4 linked regions of the Homo sapiens genome follow. The protein of the gene in region 1 purifies or fractionates together with the protein of each later gene. This does not show direct contact. Each region holds a gene or a part of one and is shown on either strand. Other genes may lie near its edges.

Region 1 (7,023 bases):
CTACAATCAGCCACATTTCAGAAAAGGTAAACATGCCATTTTTATATAGACTTAGTGCCCACCACCCCCTACCCCCTGCCAAATCCTGGTTATAGACTAACAGTTGCTGTTAGATGCTTATGAAAAATAACCCTGTTTCCCAGGATGAGCCTAACTTGGGCTCACACTAACTTGGGCTGGGTTCATATTGATACATTTCTTCCTTTTTCTCCCCTAATTTTTGTCTGGAGGAAAAAATGTATCTTCGTTCTCTTAATTTTGGGCTAACTTCTACTGCAGGATTTTCTGGCCTGAAGAAAGTTCTTCCATATGAGTGTAGTTGTGAACAAAGCGTAGCTCCAGGAGTTTTGTTCTGCATAGTGGGGAGCGGTGGAAACCACGAGGCTATCGCAGGTGGTGGACTTGGCAGAGAGAGGAGCATATGGGTTTGACAGCGGAAATAGATGTCACCATCTGGTACCCGGGCCCTTCAGATGATTCCATTACCTCCCTGTCCTACCCCATATCTAGGTTGAGTGCGGATGGCATTTGAGATATATTTGCTTAATTTTTTTTTTCTTTTTTAATGACATAGTCCTGGTTTTAAGCAAATGGAGATAAAAGGTGATGTGCTCTGTTAGGGATGTCTGCCAAGGCAAAGCTCACAGAAGACGGGAGAAGTTTCTGAGGATAGACTACCTCTGACATTATTGCTTGGATTGGAGCTGGGCTGTTTCCTGTTAGAAAAGGCAGAATACAAGCCCCAGGGAAGGGGCCAATCGGTGTGCCAGCTACTGGAGCGCAAGGAGGATTCATTCCTGGATGAGAGGTGACTCAGCAGAGAGATTTCCTAGAGACACCTCCTGCCTCCTCCTTGTATGACGTTCAAATCAGACTTCTAGACATACAGCTTGTTAGGTGTTTAGTGATTAACTTTTCTGTGGGACTTGAATGTAAATGCCAGACTATGGCAGTTTGGGATATGGTCAGTTAAGCCAGATATGCTTTGAATAGCTTGTTAGATTTAAACATCTAGAATTTTGATGGCTGTGAACTTTGAGGATCTTACTTGGGATTATGGAATTATAGAGACACAGGGCAAATGAGATAAATGGGGTTCTCTTTTGTAGTTTTGTTGTTGTTTAGTTCATGTGGTCAGGTTATTCAGTGGCATGTCCCATGCAGATTTCTTACATCTGCCATCAGCTATGACATCATGCCTGGATTCCAGTAACAGGATGGCATTTCATCAAATTCTGAAAGTCATCATTATTTGGACTAGAACAACCTATTCCTTAAAATGCCTAGTAAGACGAAATCTGGAAACAACCCCCCAGGTTGGAACTCCTTAACAAAATCAGGGCACCTTTGCTGCAGTTGGCTGCAGTGTCACTTACCTGGAGAAGGCGCCTTGTTCACCCCAGGATGACCTGTCTGTGGGTTAAAAAACGGTGCTGTCCCCTTTGAGTCAGAATGGTGCTGGCCATTCCCCTGTCGTCTTTTCCTGCCAAGTTGGATTCAGTGCTGCATGCTGGATTTCTGGCATGCTGGAGTTAGTGATGGGGCAAAGATATGTTTGGAATTGGATGAAACTCTGGACACCTCTTCAGCTCCACTGTTTAGACAGCAGCTGGCTGGAGTGGCCTCCCAGTCAGTATCATCCATTCTCGAGACTAGAGGCAATCCCACTTCTGCTGATGGTCACCCAGAATTCCATCTCCCCACCTCCTCTCCAGATCCATGAGAAAGAAGAGGAAGAGTTCAATGAGAAGAGTGAAAATGATTCCGGTATCAACGAGGAGCCTCTGCTCACAGCAGATCAGGTATAAGTATCTCTCCAGGTTATCGGGACCTTTTGTTCTTTTGATGGAGAAAAAGTCCAAGAGAACACACTTGCCACATCCATTTAAGGCAGAAGAAAGATATGTGGTCATGTGGTGCCTGTGCTCATGACTCAGAGTATTTTTTGTTTCTTTTTTTTCTTTATATATATATACTTTTGAGACAGAGTCTTGCTCTGTTGCCCAGGCTGGAGTGCAGTGGCGTGATCTTGGCTCATTGCAACCTCTGCCTCCCGGATTCAAGTGACTTTCCTGCCTCAGCCTCCCGAGTAGCTGGGACTACAGGCATGCACCACCATGCCTGGCTAATTCTTATAAAAAATTTTTTGGTAGAGATGTGATTTCACCATGTTGGCCAGGCTGGTCTCAAACTCCTAACCTCAAGTGATCTGCCCACCTCAACCTCCCAAAGTGCTGGGATTATAGGCATGAGCCACTGTGCCTGACCTTTTTTTTTTTTCATTTTGAGACAGGGTCTCACTTTGTCACCCAGGCCAGAGTGCAGTGGCAAAATCAGGGTTCACTATAGCCTCAACCTCCTTGGCTCAAGCGATCCTCCCGCCTCAGGCCCCTAAGTAGCTGGGACTACAGGCATGCATCACTATGCCCAGCTAATTTTCTGTACTTTTAGTGGAGATGAGGTTTCACCATGCTGCCCAGGCTGGTCTCAAACTCCTGGACTCAAGCAGTCCACCCGCCTTGGCCTCCCAAAGTGCTGGGATTACAGGCATGAGCCACGGTGACTGTCCAACTCAGAGTATTTTTGATAAGGGATTTCATCTCTCTTTCTGCCTCAGGTTGCCCACCTGCAGTGAACATGAATGTCATTCTTGACACTTGGGATAGTTGGGGTCAGTCTCTGATAGGAGCCAGAGACAGGCATAGTGTTTAGTAGCTACAATCCTGCTAAGCCTTCTTATTGAAATTCGTTGTACTCGGAGTCAAGACACTCAAACAAGGGTCCCAAATACCTGTTTTCCCAAAAAGAGAAGTGACAGATGAGGCTTTTGTGTGATGGATATTTTCTTACATTTCATAGAACACTCAAAATTTTGGGCCTTCCGAAAGGAGTCTTAGAGCCACTTCGACTTTGTGAAAAAAGATAGAGTGCTTCGCATTCAATTGAGATCATCATAGCTTTAATAATTTATTACTTAGAGAGGATAATGTTCAGTTTCTGGATTCCTTATTTAATGTTTTAGTCAACAAATATTTATGGGTGCTTATTTTGAGCTAAACACTACATAAGTTTCCACAAAGTCTTTCTGCAAAGCTCCACTGGCAGCCTTCGGTGCCAGAAAGTGCTTTTTTAGCAGCAATGGTGCTTTTTCATATCTGTGATAGAAAGGTGGGAATTGAAACACGTGAGGATTAGGAGACTGAAGAGAACCAGATTTTTAAAAATAGGGGCTAATAGCTATTCTTGTGACTTGTAGGAGGATCTACAATTCAATGATATGAACTCAATTATAACTCCTCTTAGAGAAAAGGACATTCAGCCATAAGACCCTGACAGGGACTTGTGTCATTTGGTTGCATTCTGTAAAATGGCTTTCAGTAGTCAAAGACTGGGTATTTCCTAAGTTTGTGAGTAGAGGTGAAAAGGTTTGGGAATAAGAATGGAAATTATTCTAAAGGAGGAGACCCTGAAACCCCTTACCTTTGGTCCAGCCCACTGTGAAGAAACCACCTCAAAGAGTACAATGCTGGCCTCGGGGACTTTAGTCCATCCATGGAGAACAGACAAAGGTGAAGGTTGGGACAAAACTCATCTAAAGACCTGCTTTCAGCAGCAGTCTTCTTTATTTGTAAATAATTAATGTACAAAGTAAGTCACTCTTTTTTTTGTTGTTGTTGTTGAAACAGGATCTGGCTCTATTGCCCAGGCTGGAGTCCAGTGGCCCAGTCTCGGTTCACTGCAACCTCTACCTCTTGGGCTCAAGCCATCCTCCCACCTCAACCTCCCAAGTAACATGGACTACAGACACACGTCACCACAACTGGCTAATTTTTCTGCTTTTTGCAGAGATGGGGTTTCGCCATGTTGCTCAGGCTGGTCTTGAACTCCTGAGCTCAAGTGATCCACCTGCCTCGGCTTCCCAAAGTGCTGGGATTACAGGCATGAGACACCATGCCCAGCTAGTAATTCACTTTTGTTCCTTTTGGCAGATATCTAATTTTCCCTCCACTTCTGGGAGCTGGCTCCTGTCAATAGTCTAGATTAGAGCTGGGGTTCTTATCTATTTGCTGCTCTCTAGACTCCACCTATCCTTCTATTATTTCATTATCTCTATTTTCATTTGTTGCTGGGCAGCTTCAGTTCCTGTCTAGGTGAATTCTGGAGAAATAGTTGTTTTCCTCCCCATTTTGTGTTGTTCTAGGAGCACGCTATTTTTTACAGTCACGTGTATTATGTCAATTAATGGACTGGGTTTTGTGTTAAAGTTGGGTGAATGAAATATTTTCCCACTTAGAAATAGCTCAGCACATTGAAGTAAATGTTCCCTTCCAGGCAGCTCTGCCTTGCTTCCTGAAAGAGCAGCTTATTTCCAATAAGTCATTTATCTAAAAGGAGCTCTTGGAAGAGGTTTTACATTAAAGAGTGCCTTACATTAAAGAAAGAGTGTATGCAAGCCTTTGGTTGGAACTATTTTTATTATTCAGTATTTATGTAAAAACAATATTGCTTTAGAAATTTTCAGATAGCTAATTAGGAACATCCTTAACTGATCAAAATTCAAGCCAGAATGCCCCTCTAGCAGAGAACAGAGTTAGCACTCTCTCGTGTACCTTCTTCAGGTAATTGAGGAGATTGAGGAAATGATGCAGAACTCCCCAGACCCTGAGGAAGAAGAGGAGGTTCTGGAAGAAGAGGATGGAGGAGAAACTTCCTCCCAGGCAGACTCGGTCCTCCTGCAGGAGATGCAGGCATTGACACAGACCTTCAACAACAACTGGTCCTATGAAGGTGAGGGCCCTGGGCGCTGGGCTGGCCGAGGAGGAAGCACCTGCTCGGGGCCAGGCTCTGGGCTGTGTGCTTTGTACATGGCTAATAGAACCCTGACTGCCTCAGAGCAGAGCCTTGCAGATCTAGGTGGTCAGCAATACCTTTCTTACTCGGCATCAGGAGAGAAGTTTGCATTTTTGAGAAAAGAACAAGGTAGTCGAGCAAAATTTAAATGTTAAAACTAACCAAAGAACAAGACTAAGGCAGAATAAGCAGAAGAAATCTGAACTACTATATAAAAGCAATGAATGATGCTACCATAAAATCAATGAATAAAAAAGGTAATAGTAACAGCTCATATTTCTGAAGTGCTTTCTATGTGCCAGACCTTATTCTAAGACTTTCTTTCTTTTTTTTTTGAGACAGAGTCTCTCTCTGTCTGTCACCCAGGCTGGAGTGTAGCGGCATGGTCTTAGCTCACTGCAACCTCCACCTCCCAGGTTGAAGTGATTCTCAAGCCTCAGCCTCCTGAGTAGTTGGGACTACAGGCACGTGCCACCACGCCCTGCTAATTTGTGTATTTTTGTAGAGACGAGGTTTCGCCATGTTGGCAAGGCTGGTCTCAAACTCCTGGCCTCAAGTGATCTGCCTGCCTCAGCCTCCCAAAGTGCTGGGATTACAAGTGTGAGCCACTGCGCCTGGCCTTATTCTAAGACTTCCTATGCCTAATCTCATTTCATCTTCACACCAACCCCATTTGGATCAAGCTAACCGAGTCTTTCAGAGGTTACATGACTTGTCCAAGGCCACTGTTAGGGAAATATGATTAGAAATGAGATTTCCTTCCTGTTCAGAAAACCTCTCCACAAAGACAGGTGAGAAAGAAAACTATTTTGTTACTATTTTTATTTATTTATTTATTTTTTAGAGATAGAATCTCGCTCTGTCGCCCAGGCTAGAGTGCAGTGGCATGATCTTGGCTCACTGCAGCCTCTGCCTCCCAGCTTCACGCGATTCTCCTGCCTCAGCCCCCTGAGTAGCCGGGATTACAGGCATGCATCACCATGCCCAGCTACTTTTTGTGTTTTTAGTAGAGATGGGGTTTCTCCACGTTGGCCAGGCTGTTCTCAAACTCCTGACCTCAGGTTATCCGCCTGCCTCGGTCTCCCAAAGTGCTGGGATTACAGGTGTGAGCCACCATGCCCGGCCTAGAAAACTATTTTATTATTGAATAAGCACTAAACCAGGATGGGAGCCACATCACAGACAACTCTCTGAAGAGACTGCAAAGACAGAAAGCAGTCTCACTCTTGTGTAGCTAAGTGGATGAATGGAACCCATTACATTGAGTAGGTTTTGCAATTTGGAGTCGGAAGGGAGTTAGGCCCCTCTGCTCAGAACAATGAGAGATGATTATGTTTCTTTTTCTTTTCTTTCTTTCCTTCTTTTTTTTGAGACAGAGTCTTGCTCTGTTGCCCAGGCTGGAGTGCAGTGGCATGATCTCTGCTCACTGCAACCTCCGCCTCCCAGGTTCAAGCAGTTCTCCTGCCTCATCCTCCCGAGTAGCTGGGATTACAGGCATGCACCACTACGCCTGGCTAATTTTTATATTCTTAGTAGAGATGAGGTTTCACATGTTGGCCAAGGTGGTCTCGAACTCTTGACCTCGTGATCCGACTGCCTCGGCCTCCCAAAGTGCTGGGATTACAGGCATGACCCACTGCGCCCGGCCCGATGATTATATTTCAAAGCAGTAACCTCCAGGCCCTTGAAGAAAGCCTCCTGAATTATAAGAATGACAAGAGGCTTATTTTAGCCATGACAATAATTTAATGTAAATGTAACATATGTTTATTTTAAAGATTTAATCTAAATCTTTGAGAGATTGAAAAGGATAGGTAGAAGAAATTCTGAAAGAAAAGGGAGGTGGGGGAGAGGAAAAGTCTCTTCCCTTATTTTCAACGGGGAGAATCAAGCCTCTCATTTAAAATTTGTATTTGTGCTTAGTCCATGCAGAAGCCATAAGGGGTGAAGCTAACATTTGAAGCCAGGTAGGTTAACTCCAGAGGCCATCCTCTTAACTCTCTGACACAGGTTTATAGTAATTATGACTGTGCACAAGAAACGGCTGGATGAAGCATGAAATGAAAAAGTGTAACACAGCAAAGGCAGAACAATTCACCAGCCGTAGGGTATCAAATGCCCACGCTGCAGAAGGGGCCCCATCCTAGGAGTTGATCCACCCATGGGGAGATG
Region 2 (7,676 bases), on another chromosome or scaffold:
ACCCTAGACCTACTCAACCATAATCATCATTTTAACAGGATCCCTAGGAGATGTGTCTGCACATTAAAATTTGAGGAGCACTGCCCTAAGACATTCTCTTTTGTTTTTCTCTTCATTAAGACAGCTCTGACTTGCACTAGACTAATATTTTAAAAGCCTGACATACATACAGTTCTGGTCCTGGGCCAGCTTGTCCTCAGATCCATTCTTTGTCCTTCTGCTCCAGTCCAAGTTGTGGAGGAGGTGACCCCAGCAAGGCCAGGGTTCCCAGGCAGGAGGGGAACAGTACATCCGCAGCAGCAGCTGTGCCCTTGCAAGGCTCCAGCCACTGCCAGATGGACCCCTTGTGACCCCAGTTTTTGGTGGGTGACAGCTGTCCCTGGAGTCTGAAATGCCATCTCCTTCCTTCACCCTCCAACTTAGGGGTGGCAGCAGTTTCCTGCTTGTTGCCTCATCTCCGGCTTGCCTCATTGCAGCCTGCATTCTCAGTTCTCACATCACCTGTGTGACCACTCCCCTAGATTACATTCCTTCTGTTCCAAATACTTAAGGTGAGTTCTGTTTTTCTTTTTAGACTCAGACTGCTACCCCATACCATTTTTGATGTTTCTATTATGTACCATAGATACCAGAGGAATTTTGTGAATGGCTTATCTGCTGGAAAAAAAAAAAATGGAGCTATTACATACAGTCAACCTCGCATTCCCACATTCTGACAATCTCTTAACAACTCAGAAGAAAAATCAGCCTTAAGCTATCTGTACAGCAGATGTGACTGTATTCAGAAACTCTAAGTCCTCGGGGTGTATTTTTAACAGTCTACCCATCACTCCTCCTCAACCAGAACAGCTGGTATAGCAGCTATTGTTTTAGGAGAAAAAAGAAGGAAAGCAAAAACACCTCCTAACCAACAAAATTCTAAACACTGGAATCTCCCAGGAATCAAATCTCTCTCAACACAATCTTGATCTTAATCAACCTTGTAAATCACATGATCTACCCCACACTGGTCAGTACCTTGCCTGGGCAACAGGAGAAAGCAACTCCTATCAGTATCATTTAGGGCTATGTGGAGATCTTCCCAAAAGCACATCTGATCCATCACCCCCATACTTTGAACAATCCTCTGTGGCCACCTCTTGCCCAAGGCCAAAAAGCAAACCCCTCAAAGGACCACCCCTTCGAAATTCAGCCCTAACCAACCCTTCCAACTAATAAGTCTAATCAACGTGATCCACCTCTGGCCCAACTTCTGATCATTTCGCAGTTGTGCCTAAAGCTCTAGACGCAAGGTTCAAATATGTAGAAGGCCATTTCTTACCCACTTAGCCTGGTGAATTCTTTATCCCTCAAGATCTCACCTTAAAGGAAACCACTCCTGCCTCCCCAGGGCAGGTCTCTGCCCCGAGTTTCCGCGGCACTTACAATGTTGTCATGTCAGGTGCACAGGCGTCCATCTCCCAACTAGACTGAGAATCCCTAGGTGTAGAAACTGCCTTCCATCTTACGGTCCTGACCATGGTTCCAACACACATCCACATTTACGACCTGTGACACCCTGGGCAAGTCATTTAACCTTGATTCTATTTCTATTCCAATTCCAAAAGACGGAGATGATAGCATCCAACTTATTGGGTTCTCACCAGTACTAATAAACTAACCATGTCAAGTGCTGTAAAGCTAACCCAAGAAAGTGCCTGGCACATAGAAGGCTTATTAAAGAATTGTTATTTGCTATTGCTATCATTATCATCACTACTGCTACTGTTATACCCGGAACAAAGCAGGTGTTCGGTACCTATTTGCTGAATAACTGGAGCACTTCACAACAAACCTGTTTGTAACATGTTAGGACCTCAGGTTCCCCCATCGCAGGTATCAAAGGCTGACAGAAGAGAAGGCTCCCACGGTGAAGGGAACGGCTGAACCTAATCCGCCCCGGAGGAAAAGCGCACTGCAGCAGGAGGAGAAAGTCCGTGCCAACCGGATCTGCCAGAGCTGCCCCAGGGACCCAGCCTGCTCGCAGCCACCTGTCCAGCCACCTGCCTGAGGAAGCAGTGTTCTAACCGGGCGGGCTCACCTGGAGCAAAAACCGTAAGCTGTTTTCAATAGGAAGCACAATGGGAAAACAAACGGTGCAACTTTCCTCCTGCAAAAAGGACGTGCGTCTTTATCTAACATTTAGCGTCAGGAGTTCTCCGTGGAGAGTTGGGTGCCAAGCGGGTGCGCGGTCCCGGCTTTGCTGAGAGAGACGGTCACTGAACGCGCATCCCTTCCTTCCCTTTTGGGATGAAGGGGTGAAGGGGTGATCCCTCGCACCCGGGTCCGAGCGGACTTCTGAGGGCACCACAGGGAAGTCTGCAGGGCACTCGCGGGACACCACCCGACCGCTCCTGAGAAACGTGCAGAACCGGGGTTTGGGGACCGCGGACGCCCGCGGGGCGCAGCCGGGAGCCCCCGCGTGGGACCCGCTCGGTGGCACGAGCGCAGTCCCCTGCATCTAGGCCTCAGTTTCCTCCGGGTCCTCGCGGCCCAACTCGGCGCGCGCCCCCCGCCCAGCGCGCGGCGCCCGGGGCGCCCACCTGCGCGCCCCCCGCCCGGCCCCACAGCCGCCCGCCGTCCGTCGGGGGCCGCGCGCTCCGCCCGGGGCGCCGGCCCGTTACAGCGGCGGGGCACGCTCGACAGGGGCGGTGACGCCCGCGGGACCCCGGGCCGGGCCGAGCCGGGCCTGGGCGGCCGCTCGGGCAGGGCCACGGGCCTCGGCCGGGGCTGCCGCGGCGTGAGGGGCGCGCGCCCGGGCCGCCGCGCCGCGGGCTCACCTTCTGTCGGATCTGACCCGACGTGGACACCTTGCGGATGAGCTTCTGTGGGGAGCCGGGCTCCGCCTCGGGCTCGCTGTCGGACGACTCCTCGGGCGGCGGCGGCGGAGGCGGTTGCGGGGGACCCGGCGGAGGGGCGCCCGCCGCCGCCGCCATGCTGCCGGGCCAGCGCGCGCACCGCGGGCGGGGGCGGGGCGGGGCCGGCGGGAGGGGCGGGGCCGAGGGCGGGCCGGGCCGGGGGCGGTGGGGGCGGCCTCCCGCCTCTCCCCGCCGCGCCCCCTGCCGGCCATGCGCGCAGCTGCAGACGGCGCCGCGCGGCCCCTCCCCGCCCCCACCTGAAGCGTCCCGGGCCCCCCGCCCACCTCTCCGGGCCGTGGCTTCTGTGTGTTATTTCTGGAACGCCGTTTGTGTTCTTGTTTCTATATTCACTTCTTAAAACATCTCTACTCTTCCGCATCAGAATGTAGGTAACCTCAGGCAGGCTGGGGCTGTGTCTGTCCTGCCCAGCCTTGTGTGGCCGAGTTTGGGGCGAGCTCGAATGCGCGCGCGCGTGCTGGAAAGAGACCCCGGTACTGGGACGGGCCTCGGGACGCCAGAGCTGGGATGCACCGCTCCATCTGGGAAGGCTTCCTGGAGAAAACGGTTCTTAAGGAGAGATGGAAAATGTGAGCAGGAGTTGTGACTAGAGAGGGAACCATGTTCTAGGCAGAGACCAGATTTGTGCAAAGGCCTGGAGGCAAGAAAGAACGAGTGTTGGGCGAAGACGGGGGAAGAAAGGGAAGCTGGTGCTTAGAGCAAGGAAAATGGCATTAAGATATGAGCCTCGGGGCGGGCAGGTCGAAGCGGGCTTTGGAAACCAGATAAGGGGATGGAAGGCAGCAGGAAGCCCTTGAGGGATTTAACCCTGGGCGGGGCTGGGTCACCACGCTGGGGCCTGTGATCCGGGCTTTGAAGTTATCAGGGCAGGTGGACGCCCTGGATTACCGAGGGGCTGAGAGATAGAGACGTGGACTGAGATCCAGGTGGGGAGTGACCAGCGACTGGAGGGAGACAGAGGTGACCAGAACGAGTCCCATGTTTCCCAGGGGGGCTGCTGGATGGTGGGCGGGTGGGGTCCAGCGCTGCTCTGGGCAGAAGAGGAGGAAGCGAAGCTGGAGATGAGATCAGCTAAGTTTTTGGTGCCATCCAGGTGGAGCAGGGCTTGGTGCCACCCAGAGGAAATGCTGTCCATCTGTCTGCCCTGCTCTGAGGGGCAAATCAGTAAGGGACTGCCCAGGTGTGCCCTCTCCCTGTCAAAGGGCTGCCGCTAGAGACCTCGCCTGCCAATAGGCATTCGCTGGCCGCGCCGCCCTGGGCAGTGACCTGGGGCTGCAGAGTGGCATCTGGCATGGGGACACGGCCAGGGGCATGGGCTCACGGCCAGGACAGAGGAGGACAAGGCCTAAGGCAGGAACAGTCCGGGACAGGCCGAAGGCCCCATGGTGCCCCAGGGTACTATAGCCACTAGCCACATGTGGCTACTTAAATTTCAATTAGTTAGAATTCAGCATTCCGTTCCTCAGCCACAGGAGCCACATTTCAGGGACTCAGTAGCCGCATGTGGCTTAGCAGCTGCCACGCTGGATAGCACAAATATAAAACACTTCCCCCGTCCCCCCAGAAAGTTCTGCAGCACAGTCGCATGCTGAACTGTGTCCTCCCGTAATTCATATGTTGAAGTCCTAACCCCCAGTACCTCAGCATGTGACTGCATTTGGAGTTAAGGTTTTTAAAAAGGTAATGAAGTTAAAATGAGGTCACAGGGGTGATCCCTAATCCGGTATGACTGGCGTCCTCATAAAAAGAGGAGATGAGGACACAGACACACACAGAGGGCAGCCCATGTGAAGACACAGGGAGAAGATGGCATCTACAAGCCAAGGAGAAAGGCCTCCGATGGAACTCCCCCTGCCGACACCGTGATCTCGCACTTCCAGCCACCAGAACCGAGAGCGTCAATTCCTGTGGTGGAAGCCGCCCGGCCTATGGTGCAGTGCTCTGGCAGCCCTAGGGAACTCATGCAGGCACAAAGGGCTCCAGCCTCCCCACAGGGTTGGGACTTTTCTATCAATTAACTACATGTGGAGTGATACACAGAGGCAAAACCCTGGAGGAGTGTGCAAGGCGGAGGAGGGGCGGGGACGCACAGGGGAAGAAACAGTTCATTCCTTCATTCCGCGGGGGAGCCGGGTGACCTGAGCAGGGTTTGGGATTGGAATGGAGAGGTCAGATATGAAGGGAGTTTCCCAGGAAAACGCAAAAACGGGGAGACTACCCCTACCAGGTGAGCAGAGCGGGTGACGAGGGATTTTGGTGAAGCCGGTAGCAAGGCGGGTGCGGGAGGCAGGGAGGTGAGCAGCGGCGCCAGGATGCAGAGTAGCCTCCCGGCCCTGCTCTGAGGCAAGGACTTCAGTCCCGTGGGCACTGGAGCTGGCAAGGGGGTTTGGGAAAGCAGAGGAACTCATGTGTCTGGGCAGAGAATGATCCATAGGAGAGAAGACTAGAAATAGGGAGGCCATTAAAATGCTGTTGCCGGCCGGGCGCGGTGGCTCACGCCTGTAATCCCAGCACTTTGGGAGGCTGAGGCAGGCGGATCACGAGGTCAGGAGATCGAGACCATCCTGGCTAACACGGTGAAACCACGTCTCTACTAAAAATACAAAAAATTAGCCTGGCGTGGTGGCGGGCGCTTGTAGTTCCAGCTACTCGGGAGGCTGAGGCAGGAGAATCACTTGAACCCCGGAGACAGAGGTTGCAGTGAGCCGAGATTGTGTCACTGCACTCCAGCCTGGGCAACAGAGCGAGACTCCGTCTCAAAAATAATAATAATAATAATAATAATAATAAATGCTGTTGCCTACACCTGTTAGGAGCTCAGGGGACATCCAGGCCCCAGAACTCATCATTTTAGAGTCAAGGAGGCAAGGGCATGAACGTGACGGTTAAGAAGCAGAAACCGTGGCTGGAGAGGAGGAAATCTGCAATTACCAGAAAGTACTGAGATTGTCACAGACAAGAGGAGCCAAGGAGACATGATGACTAAACGTCACGTGGGTTCCTAGATGGGATCCCAGAACAGAAAAAGGACATTAGGTAAAAGCTGAGGACATCAGAATTAAGTATGGGGCTTTAGTTTAATAATAATGCATCAATATTGATTCCCGGGTAGGAGGAGGGTGAGGATTGAAGAACTACCTATCGGGGATTATTGTGCTGATTACTTGGGTGACAAAAGTATCTATCTGTACACCAAACCGCCATGACATGCAATTTACCCATGTAAAAAACCTGCACATGTACCCCCTGGACCTAAAATAAAAGTTGGAAAGAAATAAGTATATTTTACTGGAAACAACATTTGAGTCACTCAGTGTGGCAAATGTACCCTACTCATGTAAGGGTTAATAATAGGGGGTTTTGGGTGTGGGGGACCTCAGTATAACATCTTTGCAACTTTTCTGTAGATCTAAAACTACTCAAAATAAAAAGTGTATTTTAAAAAAAGAGGATTAGGCTTGGTAAGAATTATATTCTTAAAGCAAAGAAAACTGGCATAAATGTTCTTTGATGATGAAGCAGCTTTTTTGTTCTCCTGGTGAGCGCACAGCGCTGTTCCCCTGGAGATCTCAGGAAGGGCTGAGACATCAACTCCCCCAAAGCGGTGGCCTGGAAGAGCACATTCCCTCCGGTGCCTCTTTATTGAATGAGTCACACTATGAATCATCTCTAACGACAGCCTGCTCCCTGAGTCTACCCCACCTTGAGGGCATATCAAGATGGCAGTAATAACACACTTCACGTCCAACCTAATTCTTCTTTGTGACACGTCAGTGAAGAGGCGCAACTCCTGTCAGAAAGAACCACTTCACATTGGAGAATATAAAAGGGAAACTTGAAAACATGGGAATCATCCAATTTTTACCCTGAACTAGGGTCATGATTGTCATTTGGAGCAGCACATTTCTCCACTGCATGTGACATAGAGCTTCTGGTCCCCAAGCATGTGAAAACCAAAAACCACCATACACATTTCCAAATGTCCCCAACTCCCACCCCGCACCTGCCCTACTCCTCAAAGATCAGTAAATGCGACTCAGTCCTGTGAAATGAAACTGGAAGGAAGAAAGGTTTTTTAAATGTTAAAGGAGTAGGAAAACAGACACCCTAAAAAGGAATTAACCACACATGTGACAAAATTGCAGAGAACTGAATACACACACTAGTACAAATCCAGTTGTGGAGATCTCAGTCAGATGAGCAGACTGGACCCACGTCGATACCCCGCTGGGATATTGTACTGTAGCTTTACATGATGTTGCCACTGGAGGAAGTTGGGTAAAGCGTTCCTGGGGTCTCTCCGTATTACCCCTTACAACTGCATGTGAATGTGCAAGTCTCTCAATGAAAATTTCTTTTTTTTTTTCTTTTTGAGATGGAGTCTCGCTCTGTTGCCCAGGCTGGAATGCAATGGCACAGTCTGGGCTCACTACAACCTCCACCTCTTGGGTTCCAGCGATTCTCCTGCCTCAGCCTCCTGAGTAGCTGCGATTACAGGCACCTGTCACTATGCCCAGCTAATTTTTTGTATTTTTAGTAGAAACGGGGTTTCTCCATGTTGGCCAGGCTGGTCTTGAACTCCTGACCTCATGATCCGCCCGCCTCGGCCTCCCAAAGTCCTGGGATTACAGGCATGAGCCACCTCGCCCAGCCTGAAAATTTCAATGGAAAAAAAAAATAGCAAGGGCCAAGGGCAGTTGTTGTTGAATCCTAAATGCTAATCTCCCTCCCCCCACTCCACCAAACTCTCCTACTTCCATT
Region 3 (7,023 bases), on another chromosome or scaffold:
GCCATTGTCTGATATAATTTTCTCTTTGTAATTTTGCAGCTCTATATGTTCGATAATGTTGCTGAATTAGAATTGAAGCATGTTTCCAAGTCTGAAATGTAATATATGTTCTGTACATCCTGAAAGTAGCCTGAATGAGAACTGCAGCCCTTTGCATTTCTTGTAACTTCTTCTTTACCATCAGTCTTCTGTAAGATGACTGTATTGTAATGGCTGCCTTTCTTAAGTGCAAGAATTGGTACAATTTATGTTTGGCACAAATGGTGGCTCGATATTTCCTCTGAACAAAAATAGTAGCTTTTTTGAGGGAAATGAATCTTCTCCTCACCAGTAATGATCTAAACCTACTCTGAATAAGGGTTGCAGAGGAATGCATACTCTTCAAATGTCTTCTAGTTTTCATACCCCTGAATGCAGCCTGAAGGATCACAGCAGAGTGTCTTTGTCTGAGATAATGCTGCCTCTGCAGTTTTGCAGCTCTATTTGCTTGGTATTGCTGTTGGATCACAACGGAGGCCTGTTTCAAAGCCTGATATCTCATATGTAATCTGTGCATTCTGAAAGTAGACTGGATGAAAGTAGCAGCCCTGTGCATCTCTCGCATCCTTTTCCTTATCATCCATCTTCTGTATGATGACTGGATTTTAATAACTGCATTTTGTACCTGAAGGAACTGTAAGTGATGCTTTGTACAAAGATGTGCCCGATATTTTCTCTGAATCAAAATAGCAGTTTTCTTGAGAGAGAGGAATCTTCTTCTCATCATTAGAGTTCTAAATCTCCTCTGAATGAGAGTTGCGGCTATATGCATCATTTTTAAATGTCTTCTAGCTTTCTTTCCCCTAAAAATAGCCTGAATGTATATTACAGAATGCCTCAGTTTGTTATACCTTTGAAATTGTATGTTTCTTTCTTTCATTGCCCAGTATCTTTGCTGTACTGTTTTTGTTATTTTCTTTAACTTATTAAAGTATGTTTGCTGTCTGTATCTTCTGTAGTTTGACTGAATGAGTGTTGCTGCAGTCTGCATCTTTCTAAGAGTCCGTCTAACTCTTACTCCTCTAAAACTTGCCTGAAGGACTTTAACAGCTTTCAAAATTGTCAGGTACTTTTCACGCTGCATTTTACCTTGATAATATGCTCTACATCTTACTTGAATAACAATAGCTGCTTTTCTCATTGTATGGTAACTTATTCTTGACTGATGCATTTTAAACATGGCTTTAATAAAAGTGGCTGCCCTGTGCATGTGTTGAATATGTCTTCTAACTCTAATACCTCTATAAACAGATTGGATTTTAATTGCTGTCTTCTTCAAATTAAGATACTCCTTATGCTGATGGTTTGTAATTTTAATACCTCGATACCATCTCTGAATTATAATAGCTGAAGCTCTATAGGTTGCATATTTCTTTTTGGTTTTGTAAGCTCTGTATTTAGACTGTATAGTGACTGCTGCTTTGTTGCAATCCTTTATTCTTTTTCTCACTTTCATACCACGATAAGCTGACTGTAAAGTTACTACAGCTGCTTTTGTTTTCAAATATAAATGATTCTGTTCTCTTCCAATACTGTAAGCCCTATAATACTTTTGAATCAGAAGAGCAGCTTTTTTCATGATTTTCCACTTCTTTTGTTGCACATGCATTCTATAGTATGACTGTATGATGATAGCACATTTATGTTGCCTTTGAAGCTGTCTTCTCAGTGTTTTTCCCTTCCACATAGATTGAAGCACCAGTACCGCATGACGGAGTTCAATATACTCCATACATTGCTTCCTTCCTGCAGTCCATGCTCTGAAATTTTGCTGGATGACTAATGCTGCTGTTTTAAACAATCTAAACTGTTTCTGGGCCTTGGCCATTCTAAAAGCAGACTGAATCTTCAAGGCAGCTTGATGTTCCCTTCTAATCTGTTTCCGAACCTTCCAGCCACGATAAGCAGACTGGAGGGAAATCACAGCTGCCTTTGTCTTCAAAAAATGTGTTCTTGTATCATGAAGAGTCTTGTACGCCCTGTACCATCTCTGAATCTTTATTATAGATTGAAGCACAGATTGATATTTTACCCTTTTATTATAGCCTCTAAAAGCAGACTGAATTTTAAGAGCAGCTATAGATTGTTGTTTGATTAGCTGGCGTACTTTATAACCTCTGTAAGCTGCTTGCAAGCAAGTAGCTGCTTTTTTGACTTGCAAGAAGTTCTTCCTCTGATTGACCTGTGCTTTGTATGCATGATAGTAATTCTGAATGACAATAATTGCTTTATACATTTTCAGATAATACTGCCGAGCCTTTCTCATTCTGAAATAAGACTGTAGTGAAATAACAGCTTTTCTTTGTAACCTCATCTGCTTTCGGACAAGGTATCCTCTAACAAATGCTTGCAGTTTGATACAAGATTCCCGCATCTGCATATACTCTTCTCTCTTTTGTGCAGCTATTTTTTTGGAACGGTAACATTGCTGGATAAATAGTGCAGCTGCTCTTAAATGCAAATATTGTTTACGTGTTTGTTTCATCTTAACAGTTGACTGCAATTTTATTGTAGCATTTTTTAGGCTCAAAAATTCCTTTTTAGAAACATAAGCACGATAATATGATTGAATCTTTATAACAGATGTGAGGATGTGAATATACATTTTCCTGGCTTGCATCCCTCTATATGCAGACTGCAGCACAATGACAGCAGAGCGTGTTTTCTGGTAAGATGCTAGAACTTTCATGGCAAAAATATAAGCTCGGAAATGAGTCTGAATTATAACAGCTGCTTTCTTCATCTTCTTATATTTCTGTCGTTGTTGATGTTTTCTTACATGTGCCTGAAATTTGATAATAGTCTTCTTAAGGTTTAAAAATCGAACTCTGTCTTGTCTCATTCTCCAGTATGACTGAATAACACAAGCAGCTCTAATTTGTCTACATAAATTATGAGCTTTCAGTCTCCTAAAAGCAGCTTGTAATTGAATGGCTGCAGCTCGTTTCTGCAAATAGTTGGTGCGCTCAATCTTTCCTTTCAGATATGCTTTGTAGTACTTCTGGATGGTTAGTATGGACTCTTTTCTTCTTTTATATAACTTTTGGGCTTGAAAGCACCGAAATCTTTTCTGAATGATAACAACACAAGATCTAATATAAATATATTTCCGTAATTCTTTATGCATTCTATACCATGATTGTATGATAATAGCAGAATTTTCTTCTTTAGCTTGTTTTCTTAAATGCCATTCTCTAAAAGCTCTTTGCAATATTACTGTAGCTTTTACTTGTGATTGCATTTTACGTTGCTTCCATTTTCTGAACATAGATTGGATTATAAGAGTTGATGATTTTAGCATTTCATATCTTTGTTGATCTTGTTTTCTTCTTAAATAAGCACGCCAATGCCTCTGAATTGTAACTGTAGCCCAAAGATATCGTTTATAAGATGTAACAGCAATTATCATTCTTATCCTAGATTGCAGGATGATTGAATAATATTTCAATTTCAGAAATCTTTGTCTAGTGGAATATCTTCTCCAATATCCCTGGAAAAGGTAAGAAAGGACACAAAGTAAAATAGGCATAGCTTTCTATATTTAACACTTTTCAAAATACTAATTTTTCTAACATTCTGCTTAAAAATAAACACATTGAATTAGAAAACTAATTATTTTTGTGAGATATTTGTCTCTTTTGTTTTTAGTTTAGGTTTTACATTGATATACCTGTAGCCAATTCAGAAATCCATCCAAATCTTCATTATATTTAAATACTGCATTTGTATGCCAGAATCATAAGAAACATAAGCAAGTTTATGTTATATTACAAGCAAAAGAGTCAAAATAAAACTATAGTAATATTCTTTGCTATCTATTGATTCTAAGTAATTTCCTATGAGTTTATTTCTGGGCCTTATATGGTCCCCTTACTTCAATGTTTCTAAGCTACCTTATAATGACTAGAAACTGTTTATGTGAAGGATCCTGCATTATCACATTACAGGCCTGATAATATAAATATAGGAATTTAGGAATAAATAAACCAGATCACTCTCAGAGTCATTATTTTCATTAAGAATAAAATTACTTCCTTTTCCCAAATTTAGGAACTATAAATACATGGCTTAAAAGTAGAATTCTAGAAAGACTTGAGAAATGACAAAACTTTTGTCTTTTGAAAAGCCATGGTTACAATGGCTAATCCAACTGTATGTTGGCTCAACAAAAAGAGCTACAAACTCTCAAGCTAATTCCAGTTGCTGGTATCTAAAATGGTCCCAGGCTAATGGTAGTCAAGTTCTAGATGTTTTAGCAATAAGACCATTCCTTTGTACAAACACTCCAAACATTGCTGAGATTGGGGGTGGCATGGAGAGGTTGTTCTCTACTACATCTTACTTTTTCTCGCATATAAGTAGAGTAATATAGGGACTGGGTACCTCGCTCTCCTATAGCAGTATCGAGTTTGCTTGCAGCTATCACTGGCCTAAGCATACCTATCCATGGGTGAGGAAGCTTAAGGAGAACATGCACATCCCTTTTCCTGACCCTTTTCCTGTAAGTTTTATTGTCTTCTTCCTCTACTAAATGTTACCTGAGGTTTTGTTCATACTCTTCAACCTGACAGGAAATGATTGTATACATTTTATCTTACCAAGAAGAGATGCACAAGTTGTCAAAATATTTATCCAACAACAGTCAAACTTATTTGTACAAAAGTATTTTGAAAACAATAAACTCTACATAAAGTATTAACTTGCTTTAAATTAGGGCAAAGTAAAGCAGTAATAGTACTCAGAAATTCAGATATTATTTTTCTTTTGAGCACCCACCCCCAACAGATATTTCTATGTAAAATCCTCAAACTAAGAAATTGAAGAATCAGTGTGTACAGATTGTTTTATACTTTAATAATCACTTTTTCTACATTACTATTACTACTCCATTACTGAAATGTTAATCAATGTTGATATATAACATGGAAGATATGATCATCTCCTCTCCTAACAGTTTTGCTTATTACAATAGCAATTTTTTCACCATTGTCATACAATTCTTAAAAATAAATAGCTTTTACTAAGGAACACATTACATACAATTTTCTCACTTAATTCTCACAAAAATACATTAAGTTGGCATTGTTTCTTCACTTAAAGAAAGGAACACTAATGTTACAAAACTTTTTGCAAAGTCCCACAGCAAATAAAAATAATTGATCTTAGGATCTACATTATTACACCAAAATCAAATGTTCTTTCTACTCTACCACAGATATCTGCAGCAGGTTGAGTGCATTAACAGCCCAATTCTTCATCTCTCCCAGTAACTATAACCTGTGCCATACTTTGTTTTTCCTCATACAAAAGAGTTTCTCTGCTTGAGATATGGGCGCAGTCATGGAAAGAATGCAGTAGAGCAGTGTAACTCAATCTTCAGTTTTCTGGTCAGATGATGAAACAAGGCAGCCCTGAGGAACTAGAGGGTACCAGGGAGATGGTAGAGACTGGGGAGCTCAGGGAAGCAATCTGATAATGTTGTTTATGAATTTCTAGGTTCACCACCAAGTTGTGCACAATGTGAATCTAGACCACAGTAGGCTATAGACTTTAAGAATTGAATAAGATACAGATCACAATCTAGATCCCAGACTGGCTACTGGGTGTTACATAATGAAACTGATATGATACAAATATCACTCACTGTAAAGGCTTTCAAAAAGGAACTGTCACTGAAGCTACGCTCATGGAAGGCTGATGAGAACAGGTGGCCTGAACCCAATCAAGTGAATTAGCTGCTAAAACTAAAATATCAACATTCTCCATAGGATTTAAACAAAACATAGAGTCTGATAACATAACATTAAATTTCCAGAATGCAATTAAAAATTATTTGACATACAACATAACAGAAAAATTTCAACTCTCACAAGAAAAGATAATCAATAGACACCAATGATGAGATGACAAAGATACTGGAATTGGAATTAACTGACAACGACTTTAGAGCAGATAAAGTAAAAATGCTACAACAAGTTGAAACTAATGGAAAGATAAAAAGTCTCAGTAAAGACATCAAAGATATGAGTAAGAACCAAGTGAGAATAGTAGAACCGAAAAACACACTAACCAAAATAAAAATTCACTGGTATGGCACAATAGCAGAATGGAGATGACAGCCAAGATGGCAAATATCTCAGCTTTGTGGGCCAATTCTGTTGCAACAAGTCAATTATGCTATTGTAGTACAAAAGCAGCTCCCAAATAATACATAAACAAATAGTTGTGACCATATTCTAAAAAACTCTATTTATAAAAACACATGGTAGGCCAAATTTGGCCTGCAGATATACCAACCTCTGACCATGATAGACCATATTGTGGATCATAAACTAAAGGTTATCAAATAGGAAAGAATTGAAATCACAGTATGTGCTCTGGTCATAATGGAATTGAAGAAAAAGTCACTAACAGAAAAATAATAGGAAAATCTCCAAACATTTAGAAAGTAAATAACATATTCTGAAACTTTAAATCATAGAAAAAGCCTCAAGAGAAATTAAAAACTATTTGAACTGAATGAAAAAAAAATACCATATCAAAATTTGTAGTATGTGGCTAAACCTGTATTTAGAAGAAAATTTATACCATTAATGTGTTACATTAAAAGTGGAAGGACTCAAATCAGTTACTCAAGATTATACTTAAAGAAACTATAGACAGAAAAGCAAAATTAATCAAAACAAGAAATAATAAAGACTGAGCAGAGACCAATGAAGCCAAAGGGTTGTCCACTGAAAAGATCAAGAGAGTTAAAACTCTAGCAAGACTGACAAAGAAGAAAAGAGAAGATACAAATTATCAATATCAGGAATGAAAAAGGGAATATCACTACAGACTACCCAGGCATCAAAAGGATATTAAAGATATACTTTGTATATACATATGGTAAATTCAACAACTTGGATGAAATGGACCAATTCTTCGAAAATTAGAAACTGCCAAAACTCATCAAAGATAAATAGTCCTATACAAATTTAAAAA
Region 4 (7,425 bases), on another chromosome or scaffold:
ACAAAAGAGACTCCCCTCAGGAGTCACAGAGCTTTAAGATCTGCCAAGGACGGTGGGGACAATCCAGCCCATCTCAAGCTCCGTGTAGAAGTTTCCCCTTCGGTGTTCCCAAGATAAAATCTGTCACATTTCAGACCCAAGGCAGTTTTATTATTAAAGTGGCCAGTTTGGGCTGGACACAGTGGCTCACGCCTGTAATCCCAGCACTTTGGGAAGCTGAGGCGGGTGGATCATCTGAGGTCAGGAGTTCGAGAGCAGCCTGGCCAACATGGGGAAACCCCGTCTCTACTAAAAACAACAAAAATTAGCTGGGTGTGATGGCGGGCGCCTGTAATCCCAGTGACTCGGGAGGCCGAGGCAAGAGAATCGCTTGAACCCAGGAGGTGGAGGTTGCAGTGAGCCTAGATAGCGCCATTGCACTCCAGCCTGGGCAACAAGAGCGAAACTCTGTCTCAAAAAAAAAAAAAAGGCTAGTTTTAATAACTCCAGAGCTCTTCCTTAATAATAATAATATTGTACTCCCCTAAAGCACGTGAATTACAAAATCCTCATCTCATTTTTTCCCCTCATAGACCCCAGCAAATTATTTATTTCCCATTTTACATAAAGGAAATGGACCTTCAGTGAGGGTCAGTCATTTGTTGCCAGTTTCAGCTCAGTGGAGAAGTGGGACTCTGATGGGGCCCGAGGTCCTCCCAATCCAAGCTCCACATTTTTACCACTGAAACTGCTTTTCCATGAGGTTTCACACCTGCAATCTAGCATGGCCTAGGGGCTTTGGTTTTCCTCCTCAGAAGTTCCAGCTCAAATAGTTTTACTAATCAATTGAAAACTGGCAAGTGGTTACTTAACTCTCACTGAAGCAGCTGCGGGGAGAGAGGTCTGGCCATGCCTGTGGGGCCTGGAATCAGAGGCTCTTCCTTCTGAGTTCTACAGGGACTGCCTCCAACCAGAATGCAGGAATCCTGCAGAGGCCCTGACCTCTGGGTGGATACTATCACACCATTCAAAACACACACACACACATACACACACCACACACCACACACACACCACACACCACACATATACACCACACACTACACACACACCACACGCTACACACACACCACACATACCATGCACATACACACACCACACATACACACCACACACTACACACACACCACACGCTACACACACACCACACATACCATGCACATACACACACCACACACACCACACACATATATACCACACACATACACACACCACACACATACACACACCACACACACACCACACACATATACACACCACACACACACACCACACACACATCACACACACATCACACACACCACACATACACACACCATACACACACACCATACACACACACCACACACATACACACACCACACACTACACACACCATATACACACACCACACACCATACACACACACCACACACCATACACCACACACCACACATACACACACACACCACACACTACACAGACACACCACACATACACACACACCACACATACACCACACACACACACCACACAGACACACCACGCAGACACCACACACCACACACAATCTCAAGGGGATTTCAAATCCCTCAGACTGAATGTCTGTGGTAAGAGGTGGGTTCTAGGGGCAAGCTCTTGCGGGGAAGGGCCATAGCCGGCAGGACCCCGTGGCTTAAGGCTACTGACCAGATGGAGTTCTTTCTGAAACTCCTCTTTGTGATTTTTCTTTTTGAGTTCCAGGCAGTTGTTCTTCAGACCCCTATACTTCTCCTTGCCATCCCCCTTGTCTGTTTTCACGATGTCCTTAGTTCCGCTGAGCTCCACGGAGTAAATTTCTGGGGTTTTCTGAAAGAGAAGCCCAGGTGCAATATTGGCCCCAAATGGGGTTTCCGAAGAGGTGCTGAGCGCCCCTCTGCGGGGTCAGGACCTGCAGGAGTCAGGAGCCCCTTCTCCCTTTCCTTCCCTCCTCTGGGGAGGCCGGAGGGAGTCGGACAGTGGAGTCTCTCCCCCACCTCCCGCCGACCTTGGCTTCCTCTCCGTCCGTGTAGAGGGGAGGCGGGGTGGGCACAGGCCAGCCAGCAGCTCCTCAGGGTGACCCTTCTCTGGGTGGAGCAGGTGGGAAGTTACCCCCCCAACTCCTGACTGATGCCTCCAAGGAGCTGTGAGGTTTCCTTAGAACCTCGAGGTTCCTTAGGCACCTCGAGGTTTCCTCTGAGGTGTCCTTCCCAGGGGACACAACAGCTGTGCGTCCTGTTTCTTGGGGAGGAGGCACCCACTAAGCTTACGACCCTCAGTCCTGATCAGGGGGCCCTAACCGGAAGTCTTTTCAGACCGCAACGAATCCATGTCACCCCATCCTCCGAGTCGGAGCCCGCAGGTGCCATGGAGCTGGCCTAGGACCCCTTGGCCCCTTCTCGCTCCTCTGGACTGGCTTCTTTCCCCAGCCAGCCCCGGCGGCCGCACGGAGCCGTGGCGGGGAGTCAGAGAAGCGGTGCCCAGGCCGGGGGGCGCTCAGAGGAAAGGCGGCCTCCCCTTGCCCCGGGACGGGGCGTTTCTCCTCTTCGCCTTTTCCTCGCTTCCCGTCAGCCTGCTCCGGTCCCCGGGGCCTTGGCCCAGCGTCTCGCATCCTCGGCCGGCGCGGGGGCTGCACGCACCTGGTGCATGCTGGGCTGGTGGCGCCGCGGGCTGCGGGCGTGGAGCGCGGATCCGGGACCGCAGCGGCGGAGCGCACGGTGGGGGGCCTCGTGTGGCTGTGGCAGTGGCAGTGGCTGAGGTGTTGGCGGTGGAGATACCGGCGGCGGCGCGGGCCCTGCACGCACCTCCGCGGCCGATCGCCAGCCGCTGCACCGGGGAGGTGGCACCAGCCTTAAATGCCGCCCGCCCCGCCCACGTCCCCGCCAGGGCGCAGGCCAGCGGACGCCTCGGAGGGTAGGAAACCCGCCGGCGCGCGCGCAGGGAGGGGGACCGACAGCTAGGGGTCGGGAGAGTCCAGGATTGAGGACCCCCTGGGAATCCCCTTCCCTTTAGTAGCCGAACGCCAGGGGGCGGGGTCTCTAGGGGGCGGGTCCGGCATCCAGGTGAGTACAGCCCTGGTTCCGCTGGGCGCCCAGAGCCGGACCAGCTGCTCCGGCGAGCTCCCGGCACGCCCACGTCCTGTCCAGGCTTCCCTGAAAACCCACACATGCCTTTTTTTAAAAATGTAATTTGCCTACCAATAAATCAATTTATAAAAATGTGTATGCAGAGAAGGGGAAATTGCAGTTTCTAACAGCAACTACTGTTGGAGATGTCCCGGCTAGAAAAGGCCAATGTGTTTTTGAGAATGGATTTAGATAGGTAAATTCAAGCTTCCGAGAGAATTTGGGAATAACTGAGAGACTCTGAAGAGTAGCTGAATTAATTTGCCGGATCCAGATAAGAATTTGGAATTCTGAAACAATTTGGAGAGGGAATGGGGAGGAGAGATGAGAGGATTAGGGTCGGTGAGACCACAGGAACCTGGGGCCCCAGGCTGCGGGTGCGCAGGAGCGGAGGCTGTTGGCTGGACTGGGCTGGAGAGGTCTGTCTCCACCTATTTATGTCACTCCCAGCTGAGACTCTATACATGAAGGAGAAAAGAATTTCTGACCCTGAAAGTTGATGTGCATACTAAAGCAGTGGTTGTTTTATACTGCTAAGTTTGGGTTGGTTTGTTATGCAGCAATAGATAACTGGGACATGCTCCATGCTCTTAGTGCCCAGCATGAGTTTTTGCACAGGATAGAAAAGGTATTTTCCCCCTGACACTTGAAACATAATTACTCCAGATGAGAAAGATAGCCTGAAAACAATATATCAGAGAGATATTTAGCAGTTAACAGTGGAGGAAATCAAACACGTTCTTTTAAAAGAATGAATCGTGAAGTCTTAAAGTCAGTGAAGAATATTAATTAATGGAGAGGAACATAAAAAATAAAACCCACGAATAGAGTTTAGTAATCAGCACCTATTTAGAAGAACAATAAGAAATTGACATGATTGAAATATATGAAAGGGAGTAGAGATAAGTTTCAAAAGAGGGGGCACTTTATTGGGCCCTTGATGCTCTGCTAATAAGTTTCCATTTAGATAAGGACTAATAGGAGGGTGCTAAGTTTTATTCTTTTTGAAAGTTATATATCAAATATGGTAAGAAAGATTGTCATTTTGACCATATTTAAAATGACTAAGAGTGAGGAGTCCAGAGAAGCAGCAAAAGTAACAATCCCATCATGCAGTGACTAGAACATCTGGCAGAAAACATGAAGAGCATTGGGTACATTTAGAAAAGGTAGAAGAAAAACAATAAGCTTGTGCCCGGCCGGGCGCGGTGGCTCACGCCTGTAATCCCAACGCTTTGGGAGGCCGAGGCGGGCGGATCACGAAGTCAGGAGATCGAGACCATCCTGGCTAACACGGTGAAACCCCATCTCTACTAAAAATACAAAACAATTAGCCGGGCATGGTGGTGGGCGCCTGTAGTCCCAGCTGCTCGGGAGGCTGAGGCAGGAGAATGGCATGAACCCGGGAGACGGTGGAGCTTTCAGTGAGTGGAGATCGCGCCACTGCACTCCAGCCTGGGCGACAGAGCGAGACTCTGTCACAATAAAAAAATTAAAAAAAAAATAAGAAAAAAAAGCTTGTGCCCAATTCTAATTAGGAATTAATTATAACTTCCTGTTCCTTTCAGATGCTAAATTTCCATAATAATTTCAGAGCATGACTATAGTTGGTGGTGAGGGACAATTGGGAAAAGAAGCTTATTTTGAGGGAATTTGAAGTGTTAGCAGTTAGAGACGTGGTTTTGTAAAGTAGCAGTAGAGACAAAGATACTTTCTCATGGCATATTTGTGATCTTAGATTTTCCACACCTCTCTGTTCATCATGGCTTTCAAATGAGACTAAGGGAATGTGTTGTACCCGACATAGTGAACTGTCTCCATAGTGCTGCACACATAGGTCTTTCCCCGCTCTCCCTCCTTCTTCCGTTCCAAAAGGGCAGAATCTGAAGCCTGGGTTCCTCCCTCTGTGAAGCAAGGATGACAGCAATGAGTCACTTCTTAACTAAAATGATAAGGGACAGGAAGACTCCTAGTGGCATCTGGTGTAAAGATACACATCATGGATTCTCTAGAGTTGGAGGGAACATTAAATTCTAGTCCAAACCCAAGCAACAGTGTGCTTCTGGGGAGCTCTGGGTTCCATTCTTGGAATACTCTTCAAAGGAAAGGTTTGCAGATGGGGTGAGAAATACAAAATGTGTACGAAACTGATGTTCCACTGTCTGCTGATAATCCAAGCTAAGGGTTTTTTGGGAACAGGTGGCTGCTGCTCACCTTAAGCTGTTCCAGCCCCTGCTCCAACTATTGGGACAGATGTAGAATAGAGAAGCAGGGTCCGCAGAGAGATGTCTCTGAGCTCAAGGCCAGTTCAAGCTCCAAAAGCAAACTCAGATCCTAGGGACTTGACTGAGGGATGGGGAGCGGGGAGGGGAAGTGGGCTAAAAAGAGATGGTGACACAGCTTTAGAAAGTACTAACTGATGGCACCCTCCCTTGATCCTTGGAGAAGATTGCCGCTTTTTTTTTTTTCTTAAGACGGTCTTGCTCTGTTGCCCAGGATGGAGTGCAGTGTGATTACAGCTCACTGCAACTTCCGCCTCCTGGGCTCAAGCCATTCTCCCACCTCAGCCTCCTGAGTAGCTGGGACTACAGGCACAGCTAATTTTTGTGGTTTTTTTTGGTACAGAAGGGATTTCACCATGTTGCCCAGGCGGGCCTCCAACTCCTGGGCTCAAGCGATCCGCTCACCTCTGCCCCAGAAATACTGGGATTACAGGTGTGAGCCATTGAGCCCAAGATTGCTGCTTATTCCTTTTGGTATCAAGGGTGGAAGACGGTTTATTACTACAAGCAGGACAAAAACATTTCCATGGTCAGGTTCTCTGGCACCTCTCTGATCCTGCAGAGTTCTTGGCTTCTGCCAGGGACTAGTCTCAGCTGTCACTGCTATGGCCCTTGTGGCAGCCTCTGGTGCCATTCAGGTGTCCTGGAGTGTTGACTTCTACCAAAGAAGGAAAATGGGGCCATTCCCCAACCCTAACTCCAGAATCGTGTCCTTTGCTGCCTCTAGTCATCTGGATACCCGACTCTGCCTTGAGGTGGGTAGGCCCTGGGTAACTGTGATGCAGGCATCTGGAGGCACTTACCTGTAGAATCAGGAATTGGATTTCTCCTGAGACACGTTCGGTCCCAGGGCCATCACCCACAATGTTCTGAGCAATGTACCCTGATCCCACCCAGTGCAAATGGCTCCTAGAGGGTTGGCCATAGAGGCCAGGCTGCAGCCGGGAGACTTCCTCAGCCCACATGTGCTAGTAGCAGCTTCTGCTTGAGGTTTTGCTGCTTTTCAAAACAAGCCTATCCACGCCAAGGTTCTCTATTATACCTGCTCATATTGACGAACATTATATATTTGGGATAGGATGTCATGATATATGTATTTTCAGCCTGTTTTAATTAAATTATATACTTCATGTATTTAAGCTGTACTAGATATAGGGGTGGTGGGGAGATATGGTACTAAAATCATGCCATCCTCTGCCCTCTAGGAAGTTGGACTTGAGTTGGAGAGACCAAATTAGTGAAGAACCAATAGTAAACGGGCCAAAAGGGAAAATAATTTAGCACTAACTGGTATGGGCTCTAAGTGCCTTCAGAGTTTAGAGGAAAGAGGTTTCTCTGGGGGAAATGGCATAACTTGTACTACTTAGGATTAGTTATTCAGATTTTTTTCCATCCCTTTGCACCCGCCAAGAAAGTGGGGAGAGAGTCTGGGAGAGCAGCTGAGTTGGGGCCTTGTGTGTGTGGCTTCCCTTGGGGACCCCAGGAGGTCCCTCCTGTGCGCAGGCTGGCCACCAGCTGGCTCAAAGAGGTGTGACTGTGAGGATCCCCACACGGAGCGGGAGGATCCAGATGACAATGGGAAGAGGAAGCTCCACTTCCTGCTTTGCGTCCGACTGGCCTGTCCCTCTGCTGCCCACTCGGCCTCTCCCTGTCCCTGGATTCCTCTCCTACACATGGGACAGTCCCCACCTGGAGCCCTCCCTACGCACCTGTATCCAGTCAGCACGACTGGCTGTGACTCGGCCAGTGTTCCTCTCCCGACGAGAGGAGGGCCGCCTGGGGTTGGAGCCAGGATGAAAAAACAAAACAAAGCTTCAGGCAAGCACGCTTCCACACTGTGTCCTCATTTCTTCATGCACAGGAAATCCTGAGATTGGCATATGAACATCCTCCAGAAAAGAAATACTGGCTTTTCAGAAATTAGCAAGTCAGCTCCAGTGATGATCCTGCCTGGAGCTGTAAACACCATGACTGATGGGAAT

What was found.
Region 2: the proteins of FEZ1 (region 1) and DGKD purify together in Homo sapiens (co-immunoprecipitation; 3 studies listed by BioGRID and IntAct, with this or other methods). This does not show direct contact.
Region 3: the proteins of FEZ1 (region 1) and ASPM purify together in Homo sapiens (co-immunoprecipitation; 3 studies listed by BioGRID and IntAct, with this or other methods). This does not show direct contact.
Region 4: the proteins of FEZ1 (region 1) and ATP12A purify together in Homo sapiens (affinity purification with mass spectrometry; 2 studies listed by BioGRID and IntAct, with this or other methods). This does not show direct contact.

The regions. Positions count from the first base shown.
Region 1 is NC_000011.10:125,458,263-125,465,285, reverse strand, and holds part of FEZ1 (fasciculation and elongation protein zeta-1), read left to right. Parts: intron 1-1,715; coding exon 1,716-1,802; intron 1,803-4,619; coding exon 4,620-4,788; intron 4,789-7,023. UniProt on the Homo sapiens protein: May be involved in axonal outgrowth as component of the network of molecules that regulate cellular morphology and axon guidance machinery.
Region 2 is NC_000002.12:233,349,818-233,357,493, reverse strand, and holds the start of DGKD (diacylglycerol kinase delta), read right to left. Parts: upstream 3,001-7,676; 5' UTR 2,976-3,000; coding exon 2,820-2,975; intron 2,365-2,819; exon of another isoform or gene 1,871-2,364; coding exon of another isoform or gene 1,835-1,870; intron 394-1,834; exon of another isoform or gene 207-393; coding exon of another isoform or gene 171-206; intron 1-170.
Region 3 is NC_000001.11:197,101,657-197,108,679, forward strand, and holds part of ASPM (abnormal spindle-like microcephaly-associated protein), read right to left. Parts: intron 3,530-7,023; coding exon 1-3,529. UniProt on the Homo sapiens protein: Involved in mitotic spindle regulation and coordination of mitotic processes.
Region 4 is NC_000013.11:24,676,003-24,683,427, reverse strand, and holds the start of ATP12A (potassium-transporting ATPase alpha chain 2), read right to left. Parts: upstream 3,021-7,425; 5' UTR 2,685-3,020; coding exon 2,676-2,684; intron 1,867-2,675; coding exon 1,708-1,866; intron 1-1,707. UniProt on the Homo sapiens protein: The catalytic subunit of a H(+)/K(+) ATPase and/or Na(+)/K(+) ATPase pump which transports K(+) ions in exchange for Na(+) and/or H(+) ions across the apical membrane of epithelial cells.